Regions from separate parts of the Homo sapiens genome. Here region 1 is linked to region 2. Evidence: fine-mapped expression QTL. A gene starts in region 2. The other region holds a variant in brackets. All regions are shown on one strand. Distances are from middle to middle.

What was found. PIP is the estimated chance that this variant, and not a neighbour inherited with it, causes the effect.
Region 1: its variant is the best candidate, but not a certain one, in a credible set for the expression of AQP1 in lung (TOPMed, PIP 0.79).

What each region holds. Positions count from the first base shown.
Region 1 is chr7:30,880,742-30,886,105 of GRCh38, reverse strand. MINDY4 (MINDY lysine 48 deubiquitinase 4) reads right to left here. Exons shown (of 18, transcript NM_032222.3): 16 at 3,745-3,925; 17 at 3,113-3,185. INMT-MINDY4 (INMT-MINDY4 readthrough (NMD candidate)) reads right to left here. Exons shown (of 20, transcript NR_037598.1): 18 at 3,745-3,925; 19 at 3,113-3,185. Among named protein-coding and RNA genes, the nearest start is that of AQP1, 28 kb to the left of the region's middle. RefSeq lists an enhancer at 1,161-2,062. The variant C/T (reference allele first, on the strand shown) is at 2,478.
Region 2 is chr7:30,909,858-30,915,221 of GRCh38, reverse strand. It overlaps AQP1 (aquaporin 1 (Colton blood group)), which reads right to left and starts at 3,369. Exons shown (of 4, transcript NM_198098.4): 1 at 2,929-3,369. The coding sequence starts at 3,312.

The DNA.
Region 1 (5,364 bases), 29 kb after region 2:
GAGCTCATGCCACGATGTCACGTGTATCCCCTTCCTGACACGGTGGGGCCTTCCTACAGACAGCAGGACTTACCCCTAAGCCTGCTGTTTCCCACTGCAGTGGTATGTCACCTGGTGGGTATGGGGGCAGTGTTCCCACTCACCACTCACCCACTCAGCTTTTCTAGGAACAACTGCCAAGGTGGACCCACCATGATGGGGGATTGATGGGGGAAGTGGAACAGGCAGGCAGCTGGTGTCAGCAAAGTTCTCGCAGACATGGAACACAGACCTGGGGATGAGGGGATAGCTAATGGAGCCAGGAAGAAGGTTCCCCTGGCCCAGTGCCTATGGCGGGCCAGAGAATCAATGCCTCACTTGATACCCAACTCTCACAAGGCAGCAGGGTTGGGGGGGGGGTGGGCACTGCCCTTACCTGGTTCTCAAAGTGTGGTCCTGGGACCAGCAGCATCAGCATCACTGGAGGACTCCTTAAAAATGCAAATTATTGGGCCCTACCCTGGACCTACTGAATAAAAAGCTCAGAAACCCTTGGTGTGGGGCACGGCGCTTTGTGTTTTTTGGTTTTGGGTTTTTTGTTTGTTTGTTTTTTTGAGACGGAGTTTCCCTCTTGTTGCCCAGGCTGGCGTGCAATGGCATGATCTCAGCTCACTGCAATCTTCGCCTCCCAGGTTCAAGCGATTCTCCTGCCTCAGCCTCCCAAGTAGCTGAGATTATAGGCGTGTGCCACCATGCCCGGCTAATTTTTAATAGAGATGGGGTGTCTCCATGTTGGTTAGGCTGGTCTCAAACTCCCGACCTCAGGTGATCTGCCCGTCTCGGCCTTCCAAAGTGCTGGGATTATAGGTGGTGATCTGTGTTTTAACATATTCTCCAGGTGACTCTGATGCCCCTGAAGCTTGAAGGCCACTGCTCTGGAGCAAACTTTCCCCAAGCATGAGCCACAAATGCATATGGGCTCCTCTTAGCCCCTGTGTGCTACACAAATAGAATTATTTTCCATGCATGACTGCTCAAGGAGATGGTGGGGCTCAGCCTTGTCCAAGCTCACACAACACTAAGCAGATGTGAGGGCAGAGAAGGGCAGGGCCCTGGCCCAAATCATGCAGCCTCTCTGCTTCCCACATAACCTCACTGTCACCTGCTTGCAAGTGAACAAGGGGCAGGGGAAGGAAGTTTTGGGAGATGAAGGCAGCCAATAGAAGAGGAAGAGGAGGTTCAGGCCCGTGTCCACACACTAAGACTCTCACTCTGCATGGACTAAGCTCCATGCAGACCAAGGCCCCAGGTCGATCTCAAACAATTGTCAATTAGAGCTGAGCCCAAGAAGTCCAATCCTGGGCCCACGCTGGGAGGTGCTTGGTGAGTCATGCAGTGGAATAATTTCTGGAGAAAAAGGAGTTACTCCAGAAGAGGCAGTGGAGAGGTTTCAGGTGGTGGGCCACCCCCTGGGAGGGGTAGAGAGACACAGAGTCAGACGGAGGCCTTCAGAGAGGGTCCCAGGAGTCCAGAGGCAAGCTGCGGCTGTGTCCAGGGTGTTGGAGCCCTGCTCAACAGGCCCACCTGCAGGAAGGATGCCCTGTGGCCTCCCACGCTGTCCTGTACAGATGCCAAGGCTAGTGTCACCTCCTGTCCCCACTGCTGCCTTTCTCTCATCATTTTGAATGAGTGGCCCTTTGTACATGAAAGGAAAGCGACCTGCAGGTGCCCTTAATCCTCCCGACGAAAGAAGCACCAGCACATGACCCTGCAAGAATGCTTCATCCCTGGCTCAGGGGGCGGGCAGGTGGATGGACGAACGGATGGACGGACGGACGGACAAAGCATGTCGAGGATGTCTCGGCGCTCCTCCCATTTCCCCTTCCTGGTGTTTCCACCATGTGAACATTTCTCTTTCTCTGCAGCTCCTCTCAAGGGCTCGCTTTCCTGTGGTGGGCATCAACCCTAAGCTTGCTGTGCCCCCTGGATCTCAGGCAGTAAGCATTGCAGGGCCTCACCATTTTGCATCCCCCGTCACAACCCCAACCATTTCACAGGCAGAGAAATGGAGATTCTCTGAGATCACACCAAATCAGGAGTGGCTGAGGTCATCATCGTGAGCACAAACACCATGGAGCACTTAGTAACGTCCCAGACACTCTTCACAAGGTCCAGTGAGAAAGGTATGCATCACCCCCATTTTACAGATGACAAAGTGGGGTGCAGGAAGGTGAGGTCCAGTGGCTCACACCAAGAAGCAGCAACACCAGGGCTGGAACCCAGGCGACTTCTCTCCAGAGCCCACACTCATAAAGGTTACCAGTTCCACTGCTCCCCCAGAAGGGACCAGGATCCAGGCCTCTCCCTCCCGGGCTGCTCCTCTCATGCACGCTGAGGCCTCTGGGTCATGCCCCAAGGGCTTTGTGAAGGGCCTGCCGGGGCAAGGGGAGCACTTCTGACAGCTACCGCACCACCAGCCCAGGGGCCCACTCAGAGAA[C/T]ACAGCAAGGAGGTGAGCCCCAACTCACCCCAGTTACTGAACATTCCCCTCCCCTGGCCTGAGCCTCAGCCTCCCCTTAAATACAGAGGGGCTGGGTCAGAGGAGTTGAAGCTCCCACCTGCCTCTGAGGCCAGAGGCACACTGCTCAGTGTTCAGAGTGGCGGAGCTGCTCCTCCGGCTCCTCCGCAAGCAGAGGGTGTCGCTCCAGGCAGCACCTCCTGCCACCCCCAGGCTGGGCCAGGCCTCCCAGCTTCCTATCCTGCTCAAGCCTCCCCCACCCTCAGGTAAGCACCCCTGTCCTGCCTCCTTCGGGCCTAACGGTACTTGCCACATCTGGCTGCTGCTGCCTTGAGGGAGGAGGGGCTTCAAGAGGTGCCCATTTAGCCCCCACCCCCAACCATGAAGGCAGTCTCAGAAGCTGTCTAAAGACGCATCACCACTGCAGACCACACACTCCTGAACCTGGGCCCCAGTGACCACGAGTGGAGAAACCTGTGTCTTTCCAATCACCACACCTCTTTGAATCAGGGTGGTCCAGGAACCTATCTGCCTTCCTGCAGGCCTGACCACCCCCAACCATGGCTCCTCAAAGCTATTCAGGGTGAGGCTCAAAGCCAGAGAGGGGCTTGACTCACTTGGTTCTGATGCAGAGCTCGAGGGGTGGGACAAGGTCGTTGTCTGTGTCCTCAGAGATGGTTTGGGTGGTGTCTGGGAAGGAGGAGAGAGGCACACACATGTCACCCAGGGCCCTGCACTCACCCTGAGGTCAGCGCTGACCACTCCCGAGACCCGCCCCCTTCTAGTCCCTGTCCCCTCCTCTCCATCTCAACTGGACCCACCCTCATCCCTGACATCCATTCTCACCTGCACAACTCACTGGTCCCCACCCGTGTCCCACTTTAGCTACCACAATACTCTTTCTAAAAACACTTCTGATCTCACCACCCTGATTCCAAAACCTTCCATGGCTCGCCACTGCCTGAAGAATACATCCAAACTTGTCAGCATAGTATTCAGGGCTCTTTACCATGTGGTGTAGGCTTTACCCAACGCCCTTAATGCCACTCACTGCTCAAGGCCCAGCTCTGGCCGCCTCCTGCAGGGAGGCCCTGCTGGCATTGGCTCTCTGATCCCCCAGTCTGGATGCTGGAGTCTGCACTGCTCTCTGTCATGGGGGTTGGTGGTGGATAGGAAGGCTGGTTTCTGTGACCAGCCTGGAGGCTCCTTGGGGACAGGGTTGGGTGGGTGGGGGGGTGAGGGCCCGCACCAATGGTCAGCCGGATCTGCTCCTGCTGGTTGGCCAGGCCATCGTAGTAGTACAAGTCAAAGAGCCTCTCAGTCCTCCAGTCACGCAGGAGCCCCGGCTGCAGGCTAAAGAGGATGCTGAAGTGGCTCTCACTGCAAACCACCCAGATGGGGAACCTCGGGGTCTTCAGGAAGCAGCCAACCTGGATGAGGGAGAGGCCTGATGTGAAATGCCGTCCCCAGGGAAAGGGGTCCGGGCATTTTTCTGTCTGACTCAAGGCAGGGCTGACCTCAGAGAGGCCCTGCTGAAGATCACGTTTGTGTCTGATGCTGGGAGCCCCTCACGCTGCTCAGGCCACTGGGCTGTTTCCCAGGGCCATCCCTGCCCTGCCACCCCACCTGCTGCTGCTCGCAGGGCCTCTGCCATACAGACCTGAGACCCGGTATCACTCGCCCCCTCATCCCCCACATCTAATGGTTCCCAGTACTGCTCATTCTGCATCCAAGAGCTCCCCCACTGCCAGCCTTTCCTCCTGAGATCTACTCAGCCTCCAACCTGCACCACGGCAGTGACCTCCTAACCAATTCTTCCCACACCCCTCAAACAAATTCAGCTTGTCCACTAGCCTAGAGCTTGCTTACCGTTGGACAGCCTGCATCTCCCAAATCCCTTGTTGGAGCAGAAATAGTTTCCTCCTTCCAGTTCCCAGGGAGCACATCACTAGGTGCCCACCCACCTCAGCCGCAGCACCTCTGCCTCATGCTCGACAGATCATACCCTTAAGTTCCAGGAGCCCGGGGTAAGTAAATGTCGGGTGAATGAAATTCCTCATGGATGAAGCAGGACTTGAACTAGAACTGCACGGTAAAGACAACTAGGAATGGAGCCCTGGGGAGCCAGGAGGGAAAGGTCTGAGTGAGAAGTCTGTGGGGGTGCCAGGAATGGAGGGACAGAGAAATTCAGGGTGCAGCAGGGCACTGAGGTTGCAGCAACACTTGGATAAGGAGCATTCCAAGCAGGGGAATTTCACATGGTGGAAGTGTTTGTGGAAGAAGACACAGAGGAATAAGCACCAGGGCCCTCAGCACGTTGCTAGCATCTTGACTACAATGGGAAGAGAAGTGACAAGGGCCCCCTGTGAAGCCCCTGAATGCCTGGCCTCCATGCACTTTCCCCCAGCCCCTGACACTTCTTGGCCAGCGCCTCTCCTGACCCTGGGCCCTGGTTTATCCAGCTATGTACGTGCCACGGGCCAGGCTGATTCTGGCCTAATCCCTACCAGCCCCAGGGAGATGTTTGCATGCTCAGGTATTTACAGCTACAGCCTGTGGATTAAAGAAAGAATGGGAATTATTTTTCCAGTGGGGAGAAGGGCATACTTTTTCCAGAACCCTTTACAGGAGAGTGGGTGAGCAGCTCCCATCTTGATCTGGGATGTCTCTGACAGAGGGGCTGTGCTCTGAAGGTCCTGAACCAGGTCCCCAGTGAAATTCCTGCACATTTAAAGCTGCCTCCTCCAGAAGGTAGGGGGACAGTCTTTACAACGCACTCATCCTTTCTTACGGTTCAAGTGTCCCCTCCCCCCACACCGAAGCCTCACCCCAGCCCTGTGTGCCATTGAAGTGGACTGCAGAGCTCATT
Region 2 (5,364 bases):
CCCTGGTCATGCTTGCAGGGAGCCGGCTGAGCAGACCAGACAGCAGAAGAATGAAAAAAGCCAGCAAATGCCAGGAATCCTGAGTCCACCAGCATCTCCTACTTCTCAGAGCCCAGCCACACCCTGCTATGTCCCTATCTCATAGACAGGAACTAGGGCCACACAGGCCAGTCTGTTGTGTGATGCCACATGGTGTTAGTGGCTGAGCTAGGACAGGGACAGGTGAGAGTGTCCACCCCAGCCTCAGAGCCTCTCACCCTTAGCCAAAATTGGTATTTGGCTCTTAGAACTAGCCGGGACCTTGCAGGCTGGACGGAGGCCCACGGTCTCTCTAGGGCATATCCTGAGCCCTGAGTCAGTCAGGAGAAAGTTGTCCCCAGCATGTCCCGAAGGGACACCCCCTGACTCACCCCAACCACTTCCTGCCACATCTTTCTCTGTTTTCCTTGGAAATCTCCATGCCAACCACTTGCCCCACCCAGGTTTTGACTGGGCTGGGGCTCAGGGCCAGAGAGGCTGCAGGAGCCTACCCCAGGTCATGAAAGAGAGTGTGTCACCTGCTGCCCAGACTGTTCCCTGCTCCTCTTGAGGCATCCAGGCCACCCCTGAGGCCCCTCCAGTTCCAGGGCCAGTGTCTGACGGGAGCCCTTAGAGGGGTACCTTCTCTATTTCTAGGCCCAGAGTTGAGGTCCTGAACCCCACCCTTCCACTGTTGGGACAGGACAGCGCCTGAGCCCCCACCATCATGCTAAGCGCCCTTATGTTCAGCACTGCCCCTGCTGGGCTGCTCTTAGCCAGCTTTCGTGGGATGGGTGATAAGCTCAAAGCAATGAAGTGAGCTGGCTGTCTGGGTGTGGCTGTGAGGTCACAAGACCTGAGTTCCCTCTCGAGGGTCAGGGTCCGCAGCTCCAAAGAAGCTCAACAAGTTAGCAGTGGACACGTCTTGAACCCAGGTGTCTGCCTCTCAGCCCAGGGCCGGACCCCACACTAGGCTGCTCCTCTTTCTCTCCCATTTGCAACACGCCCAGCCCAAGTATTGGGGTGACTATAAAAAATGAAGGCCAGGGAGGGAATGGGGCACGGGAGGCTGGTGTGGCCTCTGTTCCAGATGGCACAGAAGGGGCCCACCCTCCCGCCTCTGCCTCGGATGCGCATACTAGAGGGTGAAGCCTTCGCCAGCAGGTGCAGAGGCTCCGCCCTGTGAGATGGGAGGGAAGAGACGGGGCCAGAAAGCCTGGAAATCACATCCACTCCCCTACAGGGACGCTCCCCCAGCCCATCATACCCAGCCAAGCTTCAGTGTGAGCTTGACCCTACCCAGCAGAACTCCCTGAGGCCACAAGCTCTGCACCCACTGGCAACTGAGGCCTGGGGGGGCAGAGCTTGATGTGGCCTGCCTGAGCTCTGTCCCGTACATCCCCCGCGGCCACGTCTAAACTGGCTAAAGTCTAAACTCCAGCCCACGGAGCTAATCTTCAATCTTGGGCCTAGCAGAGGTTGGCTGCAGAGGAGGTTGGGTGAGGTGTCACCGTGACACAGAAGTGCTAAGCCCCCCATGGCCAGGCTGAGCCAGCTGCCCTCTGCACCAGACCTTCACCTAGCCTCTCCTGGGCTGCCAGCCGCAGGATCTGAACTTTGGCTGGGAAGCGAGAGGACAGCTGCTGTAATCACTATCTGCCATCTCTGAGGCGCCCTCAGAGATGGCCCACACCGTCCCCACACCCACATGCCCTGCCCACAGCCCCGCCAGCCTCATCTCTCTAGACGAGTCCTCCTCTCTGCTCCTTGGCTTCTCTCCCTCCCTGTAAGGGCACCCCCAGGCCTGCTCACCTGTCCCTTGGGCCCTCAGAGACATCCTCCAAGCCTTCCCCAGTCTCTCAGGCCAAATCCTCCCCTGCTGTGGCCCAAGCCCGGCCTGAGTTTGCACTTGTCTGAGGAGCTGGGAAAGGCCGTGTCTGGGACAGCAGGCAGCTGCCACCAGGGCCAATTTGCCATGCTAAGCAGCCCAGGAGACATTCTTTTCCACAGCTGCCACCCAGTCACCAGCATCTGCTTGTCATTAGTGACCCCAGTCCAGACCCCATTCAAGCCAGGAGCCATGGGCACGTGTTGCAAACTCACCCCCACACACCCTTACACAGCAGCACAAACATGCACACAGTTGACACAAGCACAGAGACTCATGCTGGCAAACACATGCACACATACACACCTTCACACACACACACGCACACGCACATGCACACACACGCCACACCTCTCAGTGCCTAGAGACCATGGAGCCCAGCGCTTGCCCCCCAGCCCATACTGTAATCCAGGAAAACTGCCTTCAAACAGCCCCAGAGAGTGTTTTCACTCCCTTATCTTTGTCTAATCTCAGGGGCAAAAGAGTGGAAGAGGGCCTTTCTCTTGATTCCTAGAGGTGGTTTATTTGGAAACTAGTGTGAATATGGGGGGCTCCCTGAGGGAGTCCTGCTCACACACTTGCAGAGCCAGCTGCAGACAGGCTGGGCATTTGGTTCAGGGTGGCTGGGGACAGCGGGCAAAGTTTCCCCAGGGTGCAGGGCTGCAGGAGGAGGGAGCTGGCGGCACAGGCAGGACTGAGAAGGGCCAAAAAGCTACAGCCAAGGGGCGAGGAACTGCTGGCCAAGCTTATTCCCCATAATAGATGCCCTGCAGGGGACATTGGCAAGACCATTATTCTCTGGATCTCAGCTTCCCACAGTGCCTGGCAGAAAACAGGCTTTGGGAGGCATGCATAGCTGAGTTCCAGCCCCAGCTCTTCCCCCCAGCTCTCTACGTGACCTCCAGCAACCTCTTGTCCTCTCCGTTCCTCAGTGTCCCCATCTGCACAATGGGCAGAGGATGGAACCAGTGCCTTTCAGCATCATTCTAGAACCCCCCCAAGCCCAGGGACACCCCACTCACGTCATTGCGGCCAAGCGAGTTCCCAGTCAGGGAGGAGGTGATGCCTGAGAGGATGGCGGTGGCGACGATGGCCCCCACGCACTGGGCGATGATGTACATGAGGGCACGGAAGATGCTGATCTGGCAGCTGAGCAGCAGCCCCAGTGTGACAGCCGGGTTGAGGTGGGCGCCGCTGATGTGGCCCACACTCTGCGCCAGCGTGGCGATGCTCAGCCCGAAGGCCAGCGACACCTTCACGTTGTCCTGGACCGCCGTCTGGTTGTTCCCCACCGGGTATTTGAAGCCCAGGGCAGAACCGATGCTGATGAAGACAAAGAGGGTCGTGGCCAGGAACTCGGCCACCACTGCCCTCCAGAAGAGCTTCTTCTTGAACTCGCTGGCCATGCTGGCAGGGGGCTTGGCCTGAGACCGCTGCCGGGTGCTCAATTCCCTCTGAGAGCTGAGCCACAGCCTGGGCTGGGCCTATTTATAGGGCCGGGGGGCGGGGGGAGCACAAAGGGAGGAAGGCCTCTCTTCGCTCCTGGCCCGCCCCACACCACACAGACCTCCTCTGGATGGATGCAGACACGGCTGTGCTGTCGGCCTGCCAACTTTTTCCTTCCTCCTCTCCCCCTCCCTCTCTCTCTCTCTCCCTCCGCCCTCAGCCCTGCCCAGCCCAAGGAGGCAGGCAGGAGGCAGCCGTTGCTCTAATAGGCTTTGGGAAATTCTTCCAAGCTGGCCCCACTCAGGGAACCAGAGAAATCCAGGTGTCTCGGCCCTGTGTGCAAAGCTCAGGGAGTTCCTGAGGGCAGAGCCAGGTGCTCCGGAGTGGGTGGGGTGGGCGGGCTGGACTCAGTGGGTGGACGTTGCCCTCCCTGGAGGCAGGTACCATGATCCTGCTGGCCTGACATCCCCATCCCGACCCAGAGAGGCACTGGCCTGGAGTCCCCGGGCCCAGGGCTCCAGAGGGGCAGTCAAGTCCTCCCGCACCGCCACTGCATGCCATGTTAGGGATGTCCCAGAGTCCCCAGTCCCCCAGAGCCAGGGCTCTGTGGATGGGGGCACGGAGGCATCAGAAGTTGCAGAGAGGTTGTCTGTGGCTGCCCTGCATGCTGCGGTTGAGGGCAGGCCCGAGCTAGGCAGAGCTGTTAGAAAGCCCCCGCCCTGGGAGCTCCCAAACTTCTCGACAGCGATTTGAACCAATGATTTGAGGGCAGGCTGGTGAAGATAGGGACAGTTTAGGACTTTCCTCTCAAGGCAGTCACACTGGCGGGTCACTGGGAAGGTGGAAGGAATGGCAGCCCCACCTGGCATTGGAAGGTGCTGGAGAGGAGGGAGGGAGGGAGCAGGAGAGAAAGGCAGAGACAGACAGATGCTGGCTGAGGGGAGGAGAAGAGACAGACAAGGAGAAAGGAAAGACAGTAGCAGGGAAATAGAGCAAAAGTGGAAGTGAAAGAGACAGATCCCCCAGCCAGAGACAGTGAGACAAGCAGGGCTGAGAGAGACAGAGAGAGCGCAAAGGGCTAGGAAAAGACAAACTGAAACAGGGGAGATAGGACTGGACCCAGAGCCAAGAAGCAGAAAGGGAGAGATAAATGAGGAGAGGCAGAGAGCGGGAGGGACCAGACGAGCCCCTGCAGAGGGAGGGGCCGAGGCCCTGCTGCAGATCCCCGTGGGCCGCCTGTGCCCCGGGCATCTCCAATCCAGAGGCCTAGCGCCAGCCAACAAACAAGAATCTGGACTCCAGGGCCAGCAAGCTGTCAGGAACCCCTGGGCCTGGCCCTCTTGCCTGCTGCATGGAACGTGCTGGAAGAACCAGGCCCAGAAGGGAGGGTCCCCCTGCGTCCCCTAGGGAAGGCCTGGGATGATCTGGGCTCTCCTCCCACCTCCTGCCTGCCCCACCACAGTCCCACTCGGGCGTGTTGGCATCTTCCCATTTATAGGTGGGAAACTGAGGCCCGGTGAGAGGACTTTTCTAAGTGTGCCTGGGGCAGGGCAAGGATGAGTGGGTCTTATGCCTCTTGTCCAGGGGCTATCCTGCAGAGAATGACACCAGCTGTTACTGGCCACCCCTCTGCCCAGCTGTGGCCTGGCTCTTGGGGTGAATTGCCAGGGACCAGCCTGGTGTGTGTTTGCTGGGGCTGCAGGTGGGGAAGATTCATTCCCCTAAGTGCCTGTACAGGACGGTGGTGGCCAGCAGGCCCTGCCTGCTCAGACAGCCCAGGTGGCCGAAGGTCATAAGTACTTTCTTAGCTGTCCAGGAGAGGAAACTGGCCCCACTGGGCTACTTCCTGGGCCCTCCTCTACATCCTTTCCTCTGAGGAGCCCTGGCTCAGCATTCCAGTCTCTGGGAGGCTCCCTCATGCCCCTGGCCCCTGGCCCCTGGCCCCATGCCCTGGCAGGGACACTGACCCACATGAGGAGCTCTCTGGTCAGTTTCAGGGGCGTCCAACCAGA